Homo sapiens: one gene and its partners. The protein of the gene in region 1 interacts with the protein of each later gene in a biochemical or structural test. Each region holds a gene or a part of one and is shown in the gene's direction. Other genes may lie near its edges. The genes, in order: GTF2E1, GTF2B, GTF2A1, ERCC3, OGT, TLE5 and TRIM24.

Evidence for each region.
Region 2: the proteins of GTF2E1 (region 1) and GTF2B form a complex in vitro, tested with the Homo sapiens proteins (2 studies listed by BioGRID).
Region 3: the proteins of GTF2E1 (region 1) and GTF2A1 form a complex in vitro, tested with the Homo sapiens proteins (one study listed by BioGRID).
Region 4: the proteins of GTF2E1 (region 1) and ERCC3 form a complex in vitro, tested with the Homo sapiens proteins (2 studies listed by BioGRID).
Region 5: the proteins of GTF2E1 (region 1) and OGT form a complex in vitro, tested with the Homo sapiens proteins (one large-scale study listed by BioGRID).
Region 6: the proteins of GTF2E1 (region 1) and TLE5 form a complex in vitro, tested with the Homo sapiens proteins (one study listed by BioGRID).
Region 7: of the proteins of GTF2E1 (region 1) and TRIM24, one has a biochemical effect on the other in vitro, tested with the Homo sapiens proteins (one study listed by BioGRID).

The regions. Positions count from the first base shown.
Region 1 is NC_000003.12:120,777,244-120,780,743, forward strand, and holds part of GTF2E1 (general transcription factor IIE subunit 1), read left to right. Parts: intron 1-3,500.
Region 2 is NC_000001.11:88,853,568-88,857,067, reverse strand, and holds part of GTF2B (transcription initiation factor IIB), read left to right. Parts: intron 1-3,500. UniProt on the Homo sapiens protein: General transcription factor that plays a role in transcription initiation by RNA polymerase II (Pol II). Involved in the pre-initiation complex (PIC) formation and Pol II recruitment at promoter DNA.
Region 3 is NC_000014.9:81,175,960-81,179,459, reverse strand, and holds part of GTF2A1 (transcription initiation factor IIA subunit 1), read left to right. Parts: 3' UTR 1-3,500. UniProt on the Homo sapiens protein: TFIIA is a component of the transcription machinery of RNA polymerase II and plays an important role in transcriptional activation. TFIIA in a complex with TBP mediates transcriptional activity.
Region 4 is NC_000002.12:127,277,145-127,280,644, reverse strand, and holds part of ERCC3 (general transcription and DNA repair factor IIH helicase/translocase subunit XPB), read left to right. Parts: intron 1-13; coding exon 14-198; intron 199-1,269; coding exon 1,270-1,472; intron 1,473-3,500. UniProt on the Homo sapiens protein: ATP-dependent 3'-5' DNA helicase/translocase. Binds dsDNA rather than ssDNA, unzipping it in a translocase rather than classical helicase activity. Component of the general transcription and DNA repair factor IIH (TFIIH) core complex.
Region 5 is NC_000023.11:71,539,604-71,543,103, forward strand, and holds part of OGT (UDP-N-acetylglucosamine--peptide N-acetylglucosaminyltransferase 110 kDa subunit), read left to right. Parts: intron 1-3,500. UniProt on the Homo sapiens protein: Catalyzes the transfer of a single N-acetylglucosamine from UDP-GlcNAc to a serine or threonine residue in cytoplasmic and nuclear proteins resulting in their modification with a beta-linked N-acetylglucosamine (O-GlcNAc).
Region 6 is NC_000019.10:3,055,996-3,059,495, reverse strand, and holds part of TLE5 (TLE family member 5), read left to right. Parts: intron 1-1,753; coding exon 1,754-1,817; intron 1,818-3,139; coding exon 3,140-3,184; intron 3,185-3,500. UniProt on the Homo sapiens protein: Transcriptional corepressor. Acts as a dominant repressor towards other family members. Inhibits NF-kappa-B-regulated gene expression. May be required for the initiation and maintenance of the differentiated state.
Region 7 is NC_000007.14:138,571,759-138,575,258, forward strand, and holds part of TRIM24 (transcription intermediary factor 1-alpha), read left to right. Parts: intron 1-1,748; coding exon 1,749-1,884; intron 1,885-3,500. UniProt on the Homo sapiens protein: Transcriptional coactivator that interacts with numerous nuclear receptors and coactivators and modulates the transcription of target genes.

The DNA.
Region 1 (3,500 bases):
CAAGATTTTACTTTCTAAGTTTTAGTCTAAGTTACTGCATTCAAGACTTTGAGTGATGATGGTTTAGGAGTATGTAGAAAATGGGAGGCAAAAATGGATGACGATGACTCAAGCTGGAAAGTAGAGAGGAAGGGTGTCTCTATTTCTTGCTGAATTTTATCAGTGTAACAATCAATGTGCCGCTACTCCCAAGTTAATATATCATTACTAACATATCACGTGAGTTTGGTGATATGTTAGTGCCAAAGAATAATCAGTAGCTGAAAACCACTTGTTTTTTGGCGTTTCTCCTAGCCTCTTTTCCCTTCATAATTAGCATTTAGTATATGTATATACTAGAAATTGTGAAGGTAACGTGGAGTTTGGTAGTGATGGTAAAGCAGCTAATACCTCTACTGTGATTCTCTTTGATATATTAATTTTAATAAGAAAAGGTTTTCCAAGGCAACCATACTTTACCCTCCTTCTTCCTCACTGATTAGCCTGCCATGTTAGTTTTTTTGACGGAGTCTCGCTCTGTTGCCTAGGTTGGAGTACAGTGGTGCGATCTTGGCTCACTGAAACCTCTGCTTTCCGTGTTCAAGTGATTCTCTTGCCTCAGCCTCCTGAGTAGCTGGAATTGGGCGCAAGCCACCATGGCCAGCTAATTTTTGTATTTTTAGTAGAGACGGGGTTTTGCCATGTTGTCCAGGCTGGTCTCAAACTCCTGACCTCAAGTGATCTGCCTGCCTCGGCCTCCCAAAGTGCTGGGATTACAGGCATGAGCCACTGTGCCCAGCCTGTTGTGTTATTTAGATTGAAGTTGTTTTAGATTATACAGTAGTTAGGCTATACTACTACTTAATAAATTTGTTTTCCCCAACTTGGCTTCTTGCCTGTTCTTAAAGCAGCCTTCTTTTCTTTGAACTTAGGAAGAAAACTGAATAAAATAAAATTATTATTAACCAACATTATATATTAAGCTCATAAGTTTAACATTCTAGTTTACAGTTCCTAAAATGATAGAATATGAATCATATGGGCCTTAAATAAGTTATCTGGTCTACTTAAGTTTTGTAAATATTTATTTCTGCATAAAATAGGATAGTATGTTGTCATGTCTGAATTTATCCTAAGTTTCTTGATAGTAGAGCAGACTCTATCCAGTGAATGTATGAAGTGGGTCTTAACACTTGATTTTCCTCAAACTTCAAGTCATGTTGATATCTTTCACAATTGTATCGACTTCAATCATGTTCTCATTACTATACTGAAGAAAGTTCTAATTCCTTTTGATTCTGTTTTCCTTAAACAGTTCTCTTTTCCACTGCTGCCACCTCCTACAGTTTTTGTTTATTTTTGTCTTTTTCTGGACCATCTCTAATTGTAATATACTTTACTTGAGACATAGTGACCAGAATGATACATGTTGTTCATGCATGGATTCACCATTGATTTGAGTTTTATTTCCAGTATCTTTCTGGTTTTTACTTGAGATTTTGTTTGTTGCTTTGGTTCTGGAAGCATGTTAAGACCAAAAACTTCTAGAAACACGTAGAGGTACTTTTTAGGTTCTTCTGTGCCTTGAATCCAATAGCTTGGATCATATCTTTCAGTATATTTTAGATTATTTTTCTGCAGGCTGATTTTCTTGCACTTGCTGAAATAGAAATAGATCTGCTACTTTTCTGCCCACGTATACAACCTTCAGCTCTTCCTATATTTTTTTGCTGCAACTTGGCCTTTCAGTACCCACAATTGCTTAGCATCAATTCCGTGAATATAGTTTCCCAGTATACATCTTCTTTGTAATTTATAACTCTGTTGAAAAAGGCTGTTCCTAGAACCACTGTTTCTACTTTACCATCCAGAAATTTGCTCATTTATCCTTGTTTTTTGTTTTCTGTCTTCATCTGTAACAGAATAATTCTTTTTTCTCCAAACCTCTCAAGACCCTTGTCAGAAATCTGTTACGTGTGACTTAATTTAGTTTACAAAACTAATTTTCTTTTTCCCTAATTTAATACTTAAACATTAATCAAAATACTGTGTTGATATTATTAAACTATTTGGAACATTCTTTTAGAAGCAATTATTGTCTTAAAGGCTTGCATGCATTCCTTACCTTCTTTTCTTTCTGTTGTAGTGCTGCATTGGCAGTAAGCTCTAAGGAGGAGGTTCAGCCTTTGACAATATTTTGAAGTAGTTAAGTTTGATTTTAACTCTCATTTTGACAGTCATGTTATCAAAAGCCTCTTTTCTCTGACCTAAACTTTTAACTTGTCTGCTTCTGTTTCCCTTTCTCTCTCTTATCTGCTCAGTATCTCATTTTAGGAGTTCTGTGCCTTCTAAAATGTCCAGGGATTTAGCTAATTCATTTTAATGTGTTAATGAGAAGATGCTTTCACTTTATCCATAGTCAGAATTGACCATTTCTGAGTCTTCTCTTGATGACGATGATGATAGATAACACTATTCTAAGTGCCAGGCCCATTCTAGACACTTCACAGACATTCACTTAATCCCCACAGTAATCTAGTGAAGTAAATACTATTTTCCCCCTTTCTGTACTTGAGAAAATTGAAGCGGAGAGATGAAATAACTTGGCCAGAATCATACAGCTAAATAGTGTTAGGATTTGAATCAGGGAGTCAGGTTCCAAACAATACTTTTAATCTTTTTATGTATTTTAAATGGCAGTATGTTTGGTAGTAGTATCAGAATGCAGAATGCAGATGGTTTTCTTAAATATTTCATCTGCAGTATATCAGGTAAGATATGTACACAAAATGATAGGAGGTGTGTGGTGAGAGAAGCTTCATTCCTAAAATTAGATTCTTTTTTTATAAAGAGTTTTAAGTATGCTTAGTTTGCTTCATGAAAATAAAACTCACATTTATTCACTCATTTGTCAGATGTTTATTCAGTGCCTAACAGAGTGGCAGGTACTATTTAGGTAAATGGGATATATCCATGAATAAACAAGATAAATATCTGTTGTGGTAGAACCTACATCCTTGGAAAGGGGGTGACAAAGACAATAGATGTAAGTTATTCATTATGTTAGGAAATAAGTGCTATGGGGGAAAAATAGAGCATTGGGAATGTAGGGATAGGATACATTTAAAAGGTAACATTTGAATAAAGACATGAAAGATGGAAGGGAGTTAGCTGTGTGAGTACCTAAAGGAAAAATATTCCAGGCAGAGGGAACAGGTAATGCAAAGGCCCTGAGGTAGGAGTGTGTCTGATATGTACAAGGAATACCATGGAGGCTACTGTGGCTAGACAAGAATGAGCAGGGGAAAGAAGTAAGAGGTAGATGATCAGGAAGGATTCCAGATGATGTGGGACCCTATAGGCCATTGCAAAGCTTTTGGCTTTTACCTTGAGTGAGATAAAGAGCCATGTTTTGATTTTCTGTTATGCCAGCTACTCTAGTCGATTCTTCATAGACATTATCTTATATGTTTTTATTCAGAACCTTAGAAAGTAGATGCTTTTATCACCTCATTTTACAG
Region 2 (3,500 bases), on another chromosome or scaffold:
GCACTTTGGAAGGCCGAGGCGGGAGGATCACCTAAGGTCAGGAGTTCGAGACCAGCCTGATCAACATGGTGAAACCCCATCTCTACTAAAAATACAAAAATTAGCTGGGTGTGGTGGTGGGGCTTGTAATCCCAGCTATTCAGGAGGCTGAGGCAGGAGAATTGCTTGAACCTGGGAGGTGGAGGTTACAGCAAGCTGAGATTGTGCCATTGCACTCCAGCCTGGGCAACAGAGCAAGACTCCATCTCAAAAAAAAAAAAAAACCCACGTTTAAGACATCATTCCTCAACGTCAAAATGTTAAGAAAATATGTTTTGCTTTTTAAGCAGCTCATAAAAAAAATGTTCAGAGACATAACCCTGTGAACAAACCTAATTTTTTTCCCATTTGAATTATTTTAGTTTGTACATCTTTTATTCTTACAAGTTCTTTTTTCTCCCTGAATATATTCCTCCTGATCATTTTGAATACTCTTTTCCTTTCCAAACTTACCTTTTTAAATCTTAGGGGTCAGGGAGGCCATGCTTTGTTTCTCACTGCTTGGCATGGGATTCTACAGATAGACACACTGTAAAATACGTGTTGGCCATCAGCCTTTAACATTCTGTGAAGGTTGGTTTTTTCCCATTTTGCACAGTATTTTACAGTTTCTTAATACAAATTCTGAAATAAGTAGATGTAAGTAATTCAGCCTTCTAAAGCTATGTTTAAATTTAGTGTTGTAGGAAAACTTTCACCAGAAGTATTAAGTGAATTTCTTTTCCTTTTTTTTTTTTGTTTTTTTTTTTTTTTTTTGTTTTTGAAACAGTCTCCCTCTGTTGCGCAGGCTGGAGGTACAGTGGCACAATCTCAGCTTACTGCAACCTCCACCTCCCGGACAAGCTATTCTCATGCCTCAGCTTCCTGAGTAACTGGGACTACAGCCACGTGCCACCACGCCCAGCTAATATTTGTATTTTTAGTAGAGATGGGGTTTCACCATGTTGGGCAGGCTTGTCTCGAACTCCTGGCCTCATGTGATTCGCCTGCCTCCACCTCCCAGTGTGCTGGGATTATAGGCACAAGCCACCACACATGGCCCACTAACTCCCTTTTAAAGTTAGAAGTGACTACTCCTTTCTAAGTCTTTGAGGATTACAGAAGTTATTCATGAACAAATGCATGTAAAGAAATTCATAAACTAGGTGCGGTGACCAGCCTCCTGGCCAACATGGCAAAACCCTGTCTCTACTAAAAACACAAAAAAATTAGTCGGGTGTGGTGGCACATATCTGAATCCCATTTAGTAGGGAGGCTGAAGTAGGAGAATCACTTGAACCTAGGAGGCAGAGGTTGTAGTGAGCTGAGATCATGCCACTGCCCTCCAGCCTGGGTTGATGGAGTGAGGCTCTTTTTCAAAAAAAAGAAAAGTTGGTGGCAGGTCGCGGTGGCTCACCTGTGTAATCCCAGCACTTTGGGAGGCCAAGGTGAGTGGATTGCTTGAGGCCAGCAGTTCAAGACCAGCCTGGCCAACATGGCAAAACCCCATCTCTACTAAAAATACAAAAATCAGCCCAGCATGGTGGTGCACACCTGTAGTCCCAGCTACTCGGGAGGCTAAGAGACAAGAATCTCTTGAACTTGGGAGGCAGAGGTTGCGGTGAGCCTAGATTGCACCACTGTACTCCAGTCTGGGAGACAGGACTGTCTCAAAAAAAAAAAAAAAAAACAAAAACAGAAAGTGAATTACTGGCCTCAATAACTTTGTAATACTTTATTCACAACAGCCTTCAGCTTAGGCTATATGTTGAAAAAAGTAATAAATGATAGGAATAATTAGAGAAAGAAAGCCAATCATTAGTTATTTGAAGGAGCCATTATCCATTCCCTTTGGCCTTCACTCACGTTTTAAGGAAATTTTGAGTCTTTTAGTAAAATTGAGAAGTTGCAGCTAGGCAGTTTGTCCTTGAGGTACATTCCTAGTTGTAAAGTTTATTCTAATGAACAACATGAAAACATTAATCTTGTTGCTTTCTGCTTTTTGGCTTTATATGTAAAGTCTTCTTCAAATGTAAGGTCTTTCTCTTCCCTGCACAGCAGGCAGTTGACATTCAAATAGTTGGCATTTATTGGTATTTAGATGTAGAATAATGTAATGCAGTGTGAGATACGGAAATTTAAAATTAGCTAATTGTACAATGATGGCAGGCATTCACAGTGAAAATCACTAAAACCTCACTGATTTGAATCAACTGAAAAGGTAGTAAAATGAATTTGTATTAAAAGGTGTTTAGGCCAGGCGTGGTGGCTCATGACTGTAATCCCAGCATTTTGGGAGGCTGAGGCAGGTGGATCACCTTAGGTGAGGAGTTTGAGACCAGCCTGGGCAGCATGGTGAAACCCTGCCTCTGCTAAAAATACAAAAATTAGCTGGGCATGGTGGCAGGTGCCTCAGCTACTCAGGAGGCTGAGGCAGGAGAATTGCTTGAACCGGGGAGGCAGAGGTTGTAGTGAGCCGAGATCTTGCCATTGCACTCCAGCCTGGGTGACAGAGCAAGATTCCATCTCTAAATAAATAAATAAATGATGCTTAAAAATCCATTTTAATAAAGCATTCATAATACTTAACCAAACATTGTAGTGGCAGTCCTTTAGTATTTCTTTTAATGACTTTGAAAGGAAAAAAGGGACAGCGACTTTAAAGGGTAAAAGTGGATCTGTTAGGATTCTGTACAATGTTCGTTTGAGCTCAAAATATTTAAGTATGTGCTTGTATCAGTGAAAAACATCTCCGTATGCTATAATAAGTAGCTGTTTGATCTCTGATGTATTAAGTAGAAAAAAAGATTGTAGAACAATATTTATAGTATCACATTTTGTTTTTAATAAGGACCCCTTAACAGAAGTTAGCTAGGGGAGATTTTGCATGGGAGCTTTCAAACACAGAAATATAAAGTGAATTTCTTTACAAGAACATATTTGTGGAGTACTTTTGTGATCCTCAGAAAGATTTATAAAGAAAAAGGAGGAGTCAGTTGTAAATACAATACCCAGTATAAGATGATAACACTCCTAATACTAAGACCTGAACACTATTCATATATTTTATGTTAGTTAAACCCTTTAAAACATTGACAACCCTGTAAGGTAGTAAGTACTAGTAATCATTTTTATTGTTGCTTGTTACTGACTTTAGCTCCCACTTTTTTTTTGAGACAGTATTTGGTTAAGTATTATGAATGCTTTATTAAAATGGATTTTTAAACATCATTTATTAATTTATTTAGAGATGGAATCTTGCTCTCTCGCCAGGCTGGAGTGCAGTGGTGCGATCTCGGCTCACTGCAACCTCCTCCTCCTGGGTTCAAGCGATTCTCCTGCCTCAGCCTCCTGAGTAGCTGGGACTACAGGCGCATGCCACCACGCCTGGCTAATTTTTTGTATTTTTAGTAGAGATGGGGTTTCACCATGTTGGCCAGGATGGTCTCGATCTCCTGACCTGGTGATCCACCCGCCTCGGC
Region 3 (3,500 bases), on another chromosome or scaffold:
TCTTTTAGTGCCACACCTTAAAAAGAAACCCCAAACTAGCTCCTCAGGAATATAGTTTTATTTTGCAAGCATACCATCTAGCTGAAATTGTATACACATGAATATATGTAGACTTTTCCTGTTGGGCTGAAGTGTGTGCTTATAAATGTGTTTAGTTTTTAAGCTAAACATTCAGTTAACAGTCTGTGCATTGATTAGCATAGGGCAGGTGGTGAGGACCTGGATTTTTATTAAACAGTTTAGTAATTATAAAAGTTTCTTGTGTTTACTAGTAAAGAATTTTAAAAATCTATTCTAATTCAACAAGTTTTTAAAATCAACTTTGTAATTTGAGGGGAAAATTTGGGGGGAAGAGGTGGGTGGGCCACTAAGTTACCTCTCTTTCATTTGGTGGCCCTTCCAGGCCATTGAAAATAAAGACGTTGGCTCCAGTTTGCACATTGGGAAGAAAGCATAGAAATTTGACTTGTATATTAAAAATAATAGAAATGTAATATGTATATTAAGAATGCATAGGTCTGTATTCTGTAAGGGGCTCTGAAGAACAATATGGCACTGCTGTGTTCAGTGTGAATTCACTGCCTGGGAGAACTGCAGGAATGCTTGTCTTCACCATTGTGTTCTTACAACGAATTCAACTTTCCATGGTTTATCTTGACAAAATTTACATGTGTTTAGGTTACTTGTATATTGATATATTTTTTTAATCTTCAGTTTTTGTCTTCCTTTTGCCTTTGTGTTTTCAGAAGTAACACATGAACACTTTTTAAAGTACATTACAGAGAAGAAAACTGTGAGCTATTATATAGTGTTTCTTTTTTAACACAAATCTTTTAACTTTAAAAAAAGGCAAAAATTTTTTTTTTCTACTTCCCACCCAGCTTACCACCTTGATCTCTTTAACTTATGTTCTAAACTTTGGTGTTAATGGTGGTGTCTAGCATGCTAGTAGTTAGATTTTATTTAGATGCCATAACTGGTAATACAGCTTTTATTTTGACTATATTAATTTAGTTTTTTGAGGGGAAGTTTGTTTATTCTGTGACTCTCAAAGCACACAGAGGTTTTAAAATATATATTATTAAGACTGAGAGAAGAGGAAATGGGAGGGAGTAACATCACAGAAGTGCTGTTGTTCAACTGTTCTTCAATATAGTTGCTAGTAGGTTTGTATTTACTCAGTAAGGAAGTCAGTGACCTGAACTACCTATAAAAATTCAGCAGTGCTGCAGTGTTGCTTAAGTGAAACCCTTTGGCTATCTAGTAGTTTTTATGCTACTGAAACTTGGATTACTGTATGATATTCAGCTTGTCTTGGGCCCTCTATGTAGACAAACATTCATATTCATAGTAGTGTTGTATACTGGCCTGTTTTTATAACTTTATTTTTCAAATATTAACAACCACTGCTTTCAGAGTGGTTATTTTGTTATTTTTGAAGCAGGAAATAACCATTTGTATTTGCACCTGCGTATTGCATATGAATTATGGTATACTTGGCAAATGCTTTTCTTTTACCTGTGAAAATTCTGAAAGCTGGTCCAAGCTACATTGCATACCAAATTGTGCTCTTATATATTATTTGCATCGTGTCCTTTTTAATCAAATAGCATGTTTTAGTTTTATTATAGTAGCTTTTGCTGTAAGAATGTCACTTGCTTATCTTTTATTGTACTTGAATTCTTAATCATGCTTTTAACATTGTATTTAACAAATCATTTCGTATTAGGTTCCATTAAAATGTCATTCCTTTGAAAAGGCAAGGGATTTCCACTTTCAGAATTTGAAAATGAAAGTAGCATGTTTATCTAAAGGCAGAAAATAGTTCGGACTTGGTATTATGAAAATAAGTAATGGTTTCTGGAGAGGATTTGTTTAGATTTGCACAGATGGCGATGGCACCTTTTACTTAAATTAACATTAATCAACAGTGCTAAGGAAAATTTACACAAAATTACAAGATAAAACATGGAAATGTGTGCCTTTCAGTATACAAACTCTTGCTTGGTGGCCATTTGGGTAATCAGACCATTTGAATGCCTGAGAGCATGTTTAATTTCTGTGGAGTGCCACATATGGCTAAAACAACTCTTTAATGTGCAATTAATTTCTAGAGTAAAATGTCTGTTATGTGAGGGGGATCTTTATGTTGGGCTTTTCTATTTTTTAAATGTTCACATTTCTTTCTGTTAATTAAAATGCCATCATAATGTCACATTTACACTGTTGCCTCTTTTAAAAGCAAAGCCACTTTCTTGTTCTAAGATTACATCAAGACTTGAGCAGTGTGTAGTAATTAAAATGTGTGCTTAATGAGCATAATAGATTCTGGTTTTAGGAAATAACATATAGCTTTTATATGAATATTTTCTTTTGCTATAATGAAAGTCACAGATTTTTTTTTTCCTGGCTTTTATGGAGGAATGAAAAGAGTTGTCTCCCTCTAAGAGTATACTATTTTTGATTCTCATAGCAATAATGTCACCATTCTTATCAGAGGGTAAATACCCCTTGTATAGGAAAACAGACATAATTTCCTCTTGGGAGTTCTCTTTATGACTTAGCATTTTCTTCTACTTGAGAAAATTCCTGTTTTTCCGATTATTTCATCTTGAACTTTCTTTTTTTTAAGCTTTTGTGCAATGTAATAGTTTGTTGATCCATCTTTGTACATTTTCATTTTATTTCATGTCTTTCTCTCACCTACCTGTCAGAATCAGCTATAGCAGATTTTGAATTCTTTAGTTAAAAAATAGTTGCTTTACTTGTTTCCTCATGAGTTTGTTAAATAGCTTTGCATTTTAGTCCTCTATTATGCTATGAAAATTATTACGAAGTTTATATTGTTCCCTTTTTAAGCCTGCCTTACTCTTGTCTTTTGTCATTGTCTATGGTTTAATGAAGAACACACCAAACTAACATTTTTGTTTATTTTGAGGAACAAAAAAACTTTTCTCTTTTAAGGGAAGTTACTACACATTGAGTTAGTAACTACTCTTTCAGTCAAGGTTCCTTAATCAGTCCAGTCTACATCAGGACTATGACTTGGGGGGCGGGGCTAATCCTTTTTGCTGTTCTGAGCTACTATTGTCAACTGCTGTTGTACATACTGTTATGTGTAATGGCGTAAATATATTTATTATGTTTGTAAAATTCATTGCAGATCAAGGTTGCTCTTCTGTGATATATGGGATATTATGTTTTAAAGACCATCTTGGAATACAATTAGAGAACTTAGTATTTTGATGTACTAAGACCTATTTTAAGTTTAATATTCTACTTTGCAAAAACTTTAATTAAAGATGTTATTTAAAAAAAAATGTTGCTTGCTTTGCTTACTAGTATATGGCATTGTTATAGATAATTGAATAAAATACAATTTAGAAAGGAAAATGCTTTACATTGTTAATGAGAATTCCATTTAACAACAACAAAAAGATGCTAAATTCTGTACCTTAAAGATAAGTAGATTGAGATGTCAATTTGAATTAGTAAACTGT
Region 4 (3,500 bases), on another chromosome or scaffold:
ATTGTTTCCTCAGCCAAGATGTTCCGAAGGGTGCTCACCATCGTGCAGGCCCACTGTAAGCTGGGTTTGACTGCGACCCTCGTCCGCGAAGATGACAAAATTGTGGATTTAAATTTTCTGATTGGGCCTAAGCTCTACGAAGCCAACTGGATGGAGCTGCAGAATAATGGCTACATCGCCAAAGTCCAGTGTGCTGAGGTAGCTGGGCCTGGGCTGGGGGCGTCTGGGAAAGGGCCTCCTCCTATGGGCAGGGGAGTGATCAGATCGATTCCTCATGGGCAGACACAGGTCAGGACTTAGGCTCACCTGCTACCACTTCATACAGGATCCTCAGTCACCCTGTGGTTGGGTGGTACTAGACCCACTTGCTGCATATCTTCTGTCTTGTCACATATCTCACATACCCCTGAATTTGTGATGATTCTTTTTCCTAGCCATGGGGTTTACCAGTCATGGATTTCTGTGGGTGAGGATTAGCATTCAGGGCACAGGGATGAATGAAGGCCCCTGATACCACAGTGCTGCCTGGGAGCCTGGCAGCAAAGGGCTTTGCTCTGATAGCCCCAAGCGCCTAACTGATATGCTCCCAGCCCTGCTGGGAAGTGTGTGAAGAGGTGGCGGTACTCAGTAGCAGTGCTGACTCGTGTGTGGAAGTGTGGCTTAAATGGAAGAATTGCTGACACTACCAATTGAGAATCTGGTTTCGCACACTTGCAGCTGGTGTGAAAATAACTCCCTGGATGTGATTGCATTTAAAAATCTTTTAAGTGGTTAACATGTGAAAACGTCCAGTTCAATAGGAGGTATTAGGTTGGGTTTAGTTTTGTGCATGCATTTATTTTCAGTTGTACTGATTTCTAATTCACATAGCATTTTTTTTTTTTTAAAACAGGGTCTCACTCTGTCACCCAGGCTGGAGTGCAGTGGCGTGATCTTGGCTCACTGCAACCTCCGCCTCCTGGGCAAGTGATTCTCCTGCCTTAGCCTCCTGCGTAGCTGGAATTACAGACATGCACTACCACACCCAGCTAATTTTTGTATTTTTAGTAGAGACTGGGTTTCACTGTGTTGGCCAGGCTGGTCTTGAACTCCTGGCCTCAAGTGATCTGCCTGCCTCAGCCTCCCAAACTGCTGGCATTACAGGCATGAGCCACTGCACCTGACTGGTTTTGTTTTAAAGCTAATTCTGCTAGAGAAAGGTCTTCAAAAGTTTTAAATTGTGTGGTGTTTAAACTTGTAAAATGACCCCTGGTTCTTACTGTATTACAGGTCTGGTGCCCTATGTCTCCTGAATTTTACCGGGAATATGTGGCAATCAAAACCAAGAAACGAATCTTGCTGTACACCATGAACCCCAACAAATTTAGAGCTTGCCAGTTTCTGATCAAGTTTCATGAAAGGAGGAATGACAAGATTATTGTCTTTGCTGACAATGTGTTTGCCCTAAAGGAATATGCCATTCGACTGAACAAGTAAGAATTGAAAACTTGGAGCTTCCTCCAGGCCAGTTTCTCTTCCCCATTGAGAGTGCAGAAGGTGGCTGTTGTTTTGTTTTTTTGTTTTTCTCTCAGGAACTTCTTGGGCTCCAAAGATCTTGTTCTGTGGCCCTGGTCTCAGAAACCAGGGAAGACCTGAAGTAGGTGGTTGGAGTCAGAGGTTAGAGCATAGAGAAAAGGGGGGCTAGTCACCTTGAGCCCAAAGAACAGGGAGCAGAGACTTGGACTGAGCTGGGTGGGGCCCCATGGAAGATCTGGGCTCCAAAGGTGGGTGGGAGTTGGCATTTGGAGCTTTGGGCTGTGTGAGCTCTGTGGGTGGAGAGGAGGCCAGACTGGATGGCCTAGGGGCTGGGAAGGCAAGATGGGCTGGGCTGGCATCCCAAGTACGGACTGGCATCTGGAAGGAGCTTAGAAATGCCCACGCAGTATCCTCATCAACCCATGGCTCCACCCAAATATTTGTGCTTAAAACCTGGCTTTTGTAAAGCTCTGCCAAGTAAGGAGGAAGAGGTCTGCGCTTGCTCCTACAGTGACACAGGACTTCAGGTGCTGTAAGTGTTGCAGAAGGCCAGGCCCTCTATGGAGACAGGTCAAGCTATGTGCTATGGGTACTATACATAGGTTTTACTTAATCCTCACTTCAGCCATATAAAATGTTGTTCCCATTTTATAGAAGGGAAGACAAACTCATAGAAAGATTAAATTTCTTAAGTTTCTAAAATTATACCTTTATTTAATTTAGAAAGACTTTTTAATCCAAGTCAACATTTAGATTATTGTGAAAAACAGCAATTCCCTGCTTCTATTTTCCCACCCACAATTCTATTCCTTGAAGACAGCCGCTTTTGACTCTTTTTTGTTGTTTACCTTCATATTTCTTTCTTTCTTCCTTTTTTCTTTTTTTTTTTTTGGAGTTAGGGTGTCACTGTGTCACCCAGTCTGTAGTGCAGTGGTGTAATCACGGCTCACGGCAGCCTTGACCCCCTGGGCTCAATCAATCCTTCCACCTCAGCCTCCCGAGTAGCTGGGTCTACAGGCACGCACCACCACACCCAGCTAATTTTTGTTTTTTGTAGAGATGGGGTTTTGCTATGTTGCCCAGGCTGGTCTCAAACTCCTGAGCTCAAGCAGTTCCTCCTGCCTTGGCCTCCCAAAGTGCTGGGATTAGAGTCATGAGCCACCACACCTGGCCAGCCTTCATCTTTCTAAGCAATAGCTTATGTAGTAATTTCTTGATGATCAGTTATAGAAATTGCCTATTAACTTCCTACTGTAGGAGTTGAGGGTTTAGCTTTCTTACATACACCACTCTCCCCACTCCTGTTTTCTCTCCTACCATTCTCCCAATATGGGAATAGCACAAGTTGGGGGTTACTTTAATATTCAGTTACATTATTTTGACTGTGTAAGTATGTTCAGGCAGAGCTGTAGAGTACTATTACATTTTCCTTTTTTTTTTGAGACGGAGTCTTGCTCTGTTGCCAGGCTGGAGTGCAGTGGCGCTATCTCAGCTCACTGCAACCTCTGCCTTGTGGGTTCAAGTGATTCTCCTGCCTCAGCCTCCTGAGTAGCTGGGACTACAGGCACCCGCCACCACAGCCTGGATAATTTTTGTATTTTTGGTAGAGATAGGGTTTCACCATATTGGCCAGGATGGTCTCGATCTCTTGACCTCGTGATCTGCCTGCCTCGGCCTTCCAAAGTGCTGGGATTACAGGTGTGAGCCACCATGCCCGGCCTTACATTTTCTTTTTTGTAAATGTTTTTTTGCCTTGGAGTTAATAATTGCCTTGTCATTGTTTTTGCTTGGTTTTCTGTGCATTGAATAATTATTCCCCTCCAAAGTCTTCACATAACCATAAACTCAGTAGGGTCAGGTAATTTCTCAGTTCTGTTTTTCTGTTTCCCCAGTGGGATCCCCACCAGCACTCCATTCGCTTACTCTGTTCTGGCCTGCTTGCTGTCTAGGACTAGAGACACCACCAGCTGTTACCATGGGGTTTC
Region 5 (3,500 bases), on another chromosome or scaffold:
TATGTACATTTGAGTGACTTTTTGTAAGTTTTATTGCAATACTAATCTAGCTAGTTACCCACATAAAGTTTTAGGGAGCCTGGTATGTACTGCCACTGGGCCTTGGACCCCATTTTTCCCAGGGCTCAGGGCTCACCTCTGTACCCAGTTGTCACAGTAAGTTCTTTACCTTTATTAATCAGGTTGATTCTACTCTTATTGATAGTGTACCCTCTTACACAGCTGTGGTTCTTGCCATCTTTAACTCTAATGCCCTTGGCTCAGGTTTCCAGTTGCCTATGTGTGTAGCAGAGCAGTCATTGCTACTGATAGTGTACCCAAGCAGTAGGACTATGCTGAGAAGGAAAACTAAAGTGAGAGATGGAACCTTGCTATTTAATATCTAACCTGCTGTTAGCAGGAAGCTTATTGTTGTACCCTACCAAGGAAGTGAGATAGTACTAAAATAAATCATGGGATTACCTCTTGAATGCATTGAATGGCCATGTGTTGTCATCTGGTTCTATGTTTCTTCTAGTGGAAGGTGCTGCTTTACTTATTTATTACTGTTTTTACCAATAAGAATGAAAATGGGATTGTGCAAGTTCCCTTGATTTCAACTAAACATGCCATAGTGATCATATTTTAATTTATTTCAGGATATCTAAAGTCTTAACTAGATTTAAACTTACTGTCAAATGCCCGTTGTCAGTTCAGTACTGGTAGAACCTTGCGTCTGTTCCTTATGTTCTTGTTGACAGTGCTTAAATGCATCATTAGTACATTGTGTACCTGAATCATAGATGTAGTTGGCATTCTATGAAAAATGGTTAAAGAAACTCAGGTTATTTTGGTTTTGCAGCAGTGAAAGAGTAGAATGTTAAGGTGGTATCTTTGGTAACCTTGGTAACTGTTTTCAACAGTGTTTATCTTTTTAAGTTAATAGATATGTCAATTTAGAAGTTGTTCTCTGTGACTTGATTATAGAAATTATCTTTGAGACAGCTATCTCATTTTTTTCATTCTGAATTATCTTCTATAATTATAATGTTGGGTGTTTTCATAATTTTGGTAAGATTTTAGTCTGTCATTTTTTTTTTTTTTTTGGAGACGGAGTTTTGCCCTTGTCACCCAGGCTGGAGTGCAGTGGCGCGATCTCGGCTCACTGCAACCTCTGCCTCCTGGGTTCAAACGATTCTTCTGCCTCAGCCTCCGAAGTAGCTGGGATCACAGGTGCCCACCACCATGCCTGGCTAATTTTTTGTATTTTTACAAAAACAGGCTTTCACCATGTTGGCCAGGCTTGTCTTGAACTCCTGGCCTCAACAGATCCGCCTGCTTCAGCCTCCCAAAGTGCTGGGATTACAGGCGTGAACCACTGTGCCTGGCAGTCTGTTGTATTTGAAGGTGTTATTGCAGATAGCACCTTGCAGTGACAGCACATGTTCTTTGACATGGTGACTCACTAGAGTTGCCTATACCTGGCAATTCCTTTTGCAAATTATGTATAAAATTGTCCTTTCTGTAACGGCTATAACCCTGAGTTGTTTTAAACAGGTCTGTTTCTGAATCTATAGGTTGTTGAATTGTTGCTTGTGCTTTGATTGTGGATGCACAGAATGGAGAGCTGCTGGCATCCTGGCCATCATGTGTGTTCCTGTCATGTTATTTGTTACTTGTTACTGCTGAGCCTCTCTTATACAGCTGCACTGTAGAAAACCATATATTTCGATTCTTCTCTGTTCTGCTTTCTGTTGTATATTTCGATTCTTCTCTGTTCTGCTTTTTGTTAAGGTTGCTGTGCAAATGTCACATTTAAATATGTGAGTGCTTATTGTGCATACAATGCTTTGTTAGGAAATGGGGAGATGTGTTGTGGGGGAAGTTGCGGGTTATAATATAAGACAGGACCTGACCCGTAAAGGAAAAAATGGTGTAAGTTCCTTGGATGATAATTGTTGGAGAGTATTAATCAGAAGATTTCCTCGAGTGGGTGCTTATGACCTAAGCATTCTGTAGGAAGGTAAATAGCAAGTAGACTTCCTTGGCTGAAGTGGTGAGTCAAGTAGTAACAAGAAGTGAATGTAGTAGAGGAGAGTCAATTGGAAGATTTATAAAGAATAGAGAGGCTGAGGAGTTTGAATTTAATTTGAGAGGCAATTGAGAATTACTGTAGGTTTTTATCGACCTGATTTTACTTCATATGTATGTACGTGTCTAGATGTTGTGGCTGGTGGGGGTGGGAGGCTCTAGGAGGAAAGGCAGGAAACTGATGCAATCTTAGGAGAAATAGTTCTACAGGAAAATCTTGCTCATTTCTATCTCCTTTTATTCTCACGATTTTCCCTTGTATACAGTGCCCTCCTCCTTTGTCTATTAAAACCCTACTCATCCTTCAAGGCCCAGCTTAAACTTCTCTTATGAGCTCATCATCTAGTTCTCTTAAAATTCTTTACTACTGAGTGGGCATTTAGTGTGTGCCTTGTCTTTTCACATAGATTGTAAGCCCCTTGATGATAAGGATTCTATATCTTTTCCCTATAGTTCCAGGCATGTTATTGAATTGAGTAACAGTTTGCCTGAAATGTATTAACCTGGGATGGATAAAATGGGCTAGTTTTGAGAAATATAATTGTCAAAAACATTTTGATTTGACAGATGAAGCAGAAGTGATGTCTTGGGTTTTGAACTTTTGGGAGAATGGTGGTGCCCGTGCGTTTTCTAGAAATTAGCTGTTCATGCACATAGGTTTGGATCCCCAAACAGGAGAATTGGATTTCACCGTTACATTTAATATGATGTTTTAGCTTTTCCTAAAACTGCCTTATTGATTATCTTATAGTAATCTTGAAGATAATGTATTTTTAACTATGAGCATTGTGTTAACTTGATATAGTATACTGTAATGGATCTAGATGATAACAAAATATAGATATGCTGTCAGGACTTAAGTGGCATCCATCCAAGAGTTCATAGAAACTAGAGGGTAATAAAATTACGCAACAGCTGGCTACTATGTATGGCCATTACAGTCATTGTTGGAGAATTATTGCAAGACTTCTGATTATTATGACTTAGAAAAGGCATAGGAATTGGTAAAAGTCCAAACATGTATAACCACAATTATCAAGTAGTAGAAGGAGCTTGTATGCATGGATTGGATTATGCAGTCATGGTCTGCCAAAACAGGGGTAACCCTTTCAGTTTAGAAAAAAACATAACCATACAAAGTAGATAGCAAGATTATATAATTCATTACTTCTGAGAGTATAGTGTTAAAAAGTGCTCAGGCTAATTAGAGGAGAAGTCAAATAAGATTAATGGTACCTTTGATGTTTTGAGGATTAGTATTAGCCTTTTGTGCTTGAAGTGATGGGAGACAACCTTACTCTCTAGAACATCAGTCATTGCTTGAAGGACAGTATTGAGTCAGGGAGATGATGGAACTGACCCAGTATGGCTGACCGTAAGATTGTTGTGTGGCAGCCTGTACTTTGTTGGCAGACTTTTTGGTTCACCTG
Region 6 (3,500 bases), on another chromosome or scaffold:
GGCTGGAGTGCAGTGGCGCGATCTCGGCTCACTGCAACCTCCACCTTTGGGATTCAAGCGATTCTTCTGTTTCAGCCTCCCAAGTAGCTGGGATTACAGGCGTGCACCACCACACCCGGCTAATTTTTGTATTTTCGGTAGAGACGGGCTTTCGTTATGTTGGCCAGGCTGGTCTCAAACTCCTGACCTCAAGTGATCCACCCGCCTTGGCCTCCCAAAATGCTGGGATTACAGGCGTGAGCCACTGCACCCAGCCCCGGTTTTTTTTTGTTTTTGTTTTTGTTTTTAATGGTAGCAACAAATGCACATTTTAAAAGAAAACTAGAGAAAAATTGGTGGCGGCCAAAGCATCCCTAACCCGGCACACTCTTCTCCGGTGGAGCAAAATGCCAGGTTCCTGGGGTATCCTAAGATCCATGTGCATTTATGGGATGCTTACTGTATGCCAGGTACTGTTCTAGAACTTTTCTTGTCTGAATTCATTGACTCTTCTCCACCCCACCCTGCGAGGTTGTTAGTGGTACCTCACAGAGGAGGAAATGAAGCCCAGAGAGGTAGTGGAGTTTGCCTAGAGTCACACAGCAGGGAAGACGAAGGGCTGAGCTTTGAACCCAGTCCGAGAGGGGGTGGGGATGGCAGAAGCAGGTAAGCCACAGCCAGGTCCGCAGGGCCCCTGTGCTGGGTTGGATTTAAGTAGGTTAAAGGACACCTCCCCCACCACCATCACCAGTTCTTTTCCTGGACTGGGAGGCCCTCCTGCCTGCTCTCTTCCCTCCGGCCATGACGCCCTCATGGGGGCTTTGAGAAACGCCCCACAGCTCATCCTTCCCGGGAGGGCCTGTAGGAAGCTCTGGTGTCAGCCACCCGGACTGGCCAGGTGGAGTGGGAGAAATGGTGTGTTTTGTCCCAGCTAAAGAAAAAAGGCTGTTAGGAAGGACTAAGAGGGAGCTGAGGGGTCTGCCTGGGAAGTCCAGGCCCCCCATGAAGCTAGGGTCCCCTTGGGAAGTCCAGCCGGGAGCCGCCTTGCAGCCCCAGACCCTCTCAGCCTCTTTGTACGTTCTATTTGGGTCTGGAAAATTTTCCCCTGTGGTTGAGAGCTTGGGCTGCTGCTTGGCTGTGTGACCTTGAGCCAGTTCCTCACCCTCTCTGGGTGTCCACTGTGTCATCTATAAAAGGAGCGTGACAATGACGTTGCGGGCCTCGTCGGGACCGTGAGAGGTGAAGGCTCGTGAGACTCTCAGAGCTAGCGTTACCGTGCCCCCTCTAACTTCTGTTGTTCCTATAATGTTACTATAATGTTGCTTATTTCCCCCCAACCAGATCTGCAAGGGTGGTTTCATCACCCCCTTCTTACAGTCAGGGGCCCTGATGCTCTCCCCTCCCCGCAGCATCACAGAGAGCTCAACTCTTACCAACTTCCCTGCCCCTCAATTCAATGTCCTCAGCCCCTATGAAAGTTTACGGCTTCATTGACCAGGCACGGTGGGTGGCTCATATCTGTAACCCCAAGCACTTTGGGAGGCCGAGGAAGGAGGATTGCTTGAGCCCAGGAGTTTTTGAGACCAGCCTGGGCAACATAGGGAGACCCCCGTCTCAATTTAAAAAAAAAATTATTGCTTGACCCTCTGAGAATTGGCTGATCTTGCCCTTACAGGGGACTTGGAGCCTCAGTTTCCTCCCCTGGATAACGGAGGGTGGGGGGCTCCCGCCCAGCCGCCACTAACCACCCCATCTCCCCCCTGTGCCTCCTCAGCCTCAAGCTCGAATGTGACAAGTTGGCCAGTGAGAAGTCAGAGATGCAGCGTCACTATGTGATGGTAACGTCACTCCGCCCCCAGGTCCAGTGTTGGGGGCGGGCGACAGGGCCCTCCACATCCCCTCCACCACGGGCAGCTGCTCCCTCAACCCCGGCCACCTCCCCTGGGAAGCGCGAGGATCGGGGCCTGTTCTCCATTCAGCCGGCCCCTGCTGGGCTGAGCCTGCCTCGCTAGCCTGGCAGATGGCCGAGGCAGTGGCCGAGGTGCCAAACCGCCGGGTTGCAGACCGGCCCTGCCAGGTCCCCCGGCTGTCCTTGGCAGCGGAGGAGGGAGGAGAGGGAGGCTCACCGGCTGTGAAAGCCAACAGCCAGGAACTGACGTGGGGGAGCAGCCGAGTCCCTCCCCACCGCCAAGGTCCCAGCGTCCACACGCTTAACCCCTTTGGGCCCGAGCTCAAAGAAGAAGCCTGTGGGAGGGGGTCTGAGCCCTACCCATTTCGGGGGGCTGATGTGTGACACTGCATTGCTGCTGCCAGAACCACTTGCTCGGTTTTGTAACTGCCAGGTGACGATTTCTGCATCAAAAATCCCCTCCCTTACCCACCCTTGGCCTGGCCCTCGAGCAGCGATGCTGGGGTCTCAGCCCAGTACCCAAATCTCCCAGACTGTGGGGGAGGCAGAGCCAGACCCTGACCCTCCCAGCCAGAAGAATAGGGCTGGGGTCAGAGAGAGGGACCTAGGACCTGCCTGAGGAAGACTATATGGAGAAATGGGGCACACAGCTGGGGTCTTGCAGGATGAGTAGGAGTTCACCAGACAGAGACAGAGAAACTACGTGAAGGCCTGGGAATGAACTTGGTTTTCCCCCAGGGGTGACAGGGAGCCATGGGAGGGTTTAGAGCAGGGGAGGGGCAGGGTGAGATCTGGGGCTTGGGGTGGGGGTAGCTGCTGGCCCCAGAGCCAGCAGGCTTTGTTTACCCCTCACTGTTTATACCTAGGCAGGCAAACTTCCCTGGCGTCTGGGCCCACCCGCAGACAAGACATAGAAAGATACAAGATTAGGAGCCCTGGAATGCGTGTTCTCGCGGTGCACATGGAGTGGGGGAGGAGCCAGGCCAGGGCTAGGGACCTAAAGTGCCCCCAGTCTCCATCCGCAGCCCCAGCGGCCCCCTGCCCCTCTCCAGGGCGGGCTGGGATGCTGGGTGTGGGCGTCTCTCCCTCCTCTTTCCCTCCCACCTGCCTCTCCTTTCTTTCCTGCCCTCAGCTGTCTCTTGCTGTCTCCCCCCTTTGTCTGTCTCTGCCACTCCCCTATCTCTTTGTCTCCGTGTCCCCCCATCCTTCCCCACCCCCATCTCCCGCTCCCCCTCTCTCTCCCCCATACAGTACTACGAGATGTCCTACGGCTTGAACATCGAGATGCACAAACAGGTACGCCCATCTCCTCCTCCTCCTCCTCCTCCTCCTCCTTCCCCCTCCTCCCCCCACCTCCAGCCCCGCCTTGGGCACCCCCAGGCAGGTAGCGGCCGGCCCTCGGCTGGGCACCAAGCCAGCCCGGTTATCCTGTTACCTCCTAAGCCCTCCCCAAGCTCCCGCTCTCCTCCCCCCCGCCCCGCCTCTTTTTCAGGCCTCCCTGGGAGTGTTTCTCCCGGTGGTGGGGAGGGGCAGAGACCTTCCCCACAGCCTACGGCCCCCAGCCCTCCCTACATTCGCACAAGCGCTTACTACCTGCCAGGGGCCTGAGTGG
Region 7 (3,500 bases), on another chromosome or scaffold:
GGGAGACGCCCTATGTTACCCAGGCTGGTCTTGAACTCCTGGGCTGAAGGGATCCTCCTGCCTTGGCCTCCTAAAGTGCTGGGATTACAGGCATGAGCCACTACACCCAGCCAGTATGACTATTCCAAAGGCAGAAAGTCTGCATTCTGTAGACAGATCTCCATATATAAGTTGATTCTGTGTTTGATCCTTTTTTTAATCTAAAGTTAGATAACCTACTGTCGTGCACATATACATACGCACCTAATGTTAAGAAGCTTTTAGGAAATATCTTGTACTCTTTACTTGGATCAAATTACCTATAAGATTGTGAAAATAACTTTTTTATTTTCATTATTTGTTTTTCAAGTTGAGATCAATTAATATTTCCTAATAGTTGCATTGTTAATCTTACCAGAGTCATTCCATTTTTAAAATAGTTTTGTATACTTTAAATGAGTAGAATACATATATTTTCTCATGCATGGATGGTTCATAGGAAAACTTACATCTAATCCCCATAGTTTTATTTGGCTTTTAGGATTATCCCACAAAGTAAACAACTTTCCTTGTATTAAGTTCTCATGAATTTAGTCATTCTAGTACTTTTTGTACTCTTTGAAAAATATTGGCCAAGTATTGCCAAAAGAATATTAAAACAAAAATGACCCTGTATATTAACCACCTGGCCCGATTTCCCTGCCCCCGAACCCACAGAAAGTAAAATTCTTTCTGCTTTTTCCTCTGCAGTCCTCATACAGGTGAACCTTTTTCCACCAGGCTTTCTTACCTGAAATTCCTCTTAGGAATTACAGAATAAGCTGAAATGAGTGACTGTTTTCTCATTCCTCCCAAAGGTGCTTCATAACTAGTACCATTCTAGGTGCATAAGCAAGAAATTGATTCATTATATACAAACTGTGCCCTATGGCTGTAGGACTTAATTATCTTATAGAATCCTGGTTGAACAAGAGTAGAACTATGTTAAAGAATTGAACTGGATTTTAAGCCCAAAGACATTGGTGGGAAATTTGGTATATGTAGGCATGAAAGAATTTTTGTGTCTAAAGTATTAAACTCTTACTCATTAGGGATTTGTAAATATTTTTGCCTGGCAATGAATAAGGAAAAGAAGTGTTATTTGTATTCCTGTTATATTAAAGCAAGAATCTTTAGGGTTCACCTTTTCTCCTACAAAACAACAGTAATGTATTCAGTGAGGTTAGTGCTGTAGATATATGGACTTCGTCTATTTAGCACATACCCAGAGTATCAGTTGTTAAAGTATCCCTTTCAGAGGATCCACTAGGTCCTATCTATCTGTGTGAGGCTAGATTTTCTTCATATTTTTCAAGCAAAACCATATACCACAATAGATTGAATGCTGTTTAGGGAGACATTAAAGAGATTCGCAAGAAATGTAAAATTGTGATAGTCTTCTCACCAAGTTTATGTTTTTCATATGGCAAGCTTTTGTCGTTTATAAGAATTTTTTCAATTTTTAAGAGTGTGAATGACATGATATTCCTTTTGACTCCTGTTTTTGAAATAGCGTCCTCAATATTTTACTAAGGTGAAACACTAAGATAGTGAAAACCTTTATTCAAGGTTGTTTATGGGGAAAATATCTGTTAGAACTTCTCAAATGTGGTATCTATGTTTTGTTATTCGATAATAATTATTAAGTTATTGAAGCTTTCTTATAAATTTAAAAGTAGCTTTTAACTTGCAAAATCAGAATGCCCTGAAATAATTTCTTTTCTTGTAAGATTGACTGTTCAAGTACTATTATGCTGGACAATATTGTGAGGAAAGATACTAATATAGATCATGGCCAGCCAAGACCACCCTCAAACAGAACGGTCCAGTCACCAAATTCATCAGTGCCATCTCCAGGCCTTGCAGGTAAAGTGGGCTTCTTTTGATTTTTGTGAAAGTTTTTCTAGTTTTCACTTTACTTGGAATAAAAAATTACCCCTCTTCTCCTTTTTTGTTGAATGCTTAATCTGAGTTTTTCACTATTTAAAATTAGTATGCTTTCAGAGAAAACAAAGGTTAAATTTCTTTATCCTTTCTTTCTTTTGAGTCACAGTCTCGCTCTGTTGCCAGGCTAGAGTGCAGTGGTGCGATCATAGCTCACTGCAGACTCACTCCTGAGCTCAAGCGATCTCCCACCTCAGCCTCCTGAGTAGCTGGGACTGTAAGTATGCTGCTCTACCAAACGTGGCTAATATTTTTTGGTAGAGACAGTCTTGAACTTCTGGCCTTAAGCAATCCTTTCTGCCTTAGCCTCCCAAAGCTTTGGGATTACAGGCATGAGCCATCATACTAGGCCTTCTTTACCTTTTCAATTTCAACAGAACTTCTCACCATTATAGTACTTCCAGGGGGAAATTGGTGTTATATTCTTTCTTGTTGATAAGTTGCCTGTGATGTGGTCTTTAAGATGTAATTTGCCTAGGGTCAAAATGTATTAGTGACAATAAGTAGCAATCACTCTTCTGGTGATTTGTTTGGTGTTTAATTGTGTTTGTGAATCTTGACATACCTACTCATTTCCTCTGAGAGAAAAACGCTAATATTACTTCTGAGGACGTAGGTACCTTAAACCAAAATATGAAAAGAGAATTTAAGTCACTCAACAGTCACATGAACACAATTTAAATGGGGATGCCCGTTTTAAACAAACTTATGACAAAATATAGCAGAGAAACTGTTTATCATATGACAAGTTTATACAAATAAGGAACACATGTGGTATTGCCAAAGGACATGATAAGTAGATAATTCCCTAAAGAGGAAATACATTTATCCAATATAGCAGATGAGACAAAAATTCATTCTTACTAGTGGTCATAAGAAAAATCAAACAAGATAGAATTTCTAAGTTACTGAATTAGCTAAGACTTAAATAATAAAAATAGTCATTGAGAATGTGATGAGAGGTACTCTCATACATAGGTGGAAGGGGTATGAGTTGGCAAAACATTCCTGGAAACCATCATAGCAATATTACTAAAGTTTACATTTATCCAATATTGTACTGTGGGCAAAGTACCTTATATGTATTACCTAGTAGGATATTTGCTTCAAGGGGCTTGGAAAATGTATGTACCCTTGAACCTAGTAATTTCCATTTTAATATGCCAATTATAAGGAAATAATTAGGAACTGGATAGGCAGATCGTATTTATTAATATTTATATTACTATTAAGGCATTATTTGCAGTAGTTAAAATTTTGAAGCAGTGCCCAAATATGAGGATAAAAATAAATTAGAATGTGCTCACTTGTAAACAGATTATTTACCTATTCAGACAATGCTTATGTAGAGTTTTTAATGGCATGCTCATGGACTACTGTTTAGTGAAAACAAGTATACAGAACCATATAAAAGATGTAAAAGTATGTTTAAAACTGGAAAGAGATATATCAATCAACCTTAGCAGTGTTTATATATGGATGGAGAAGTTATGGGCTACTTAAATGTTATATATTTTTATAGTTTTCAACTATTCTAA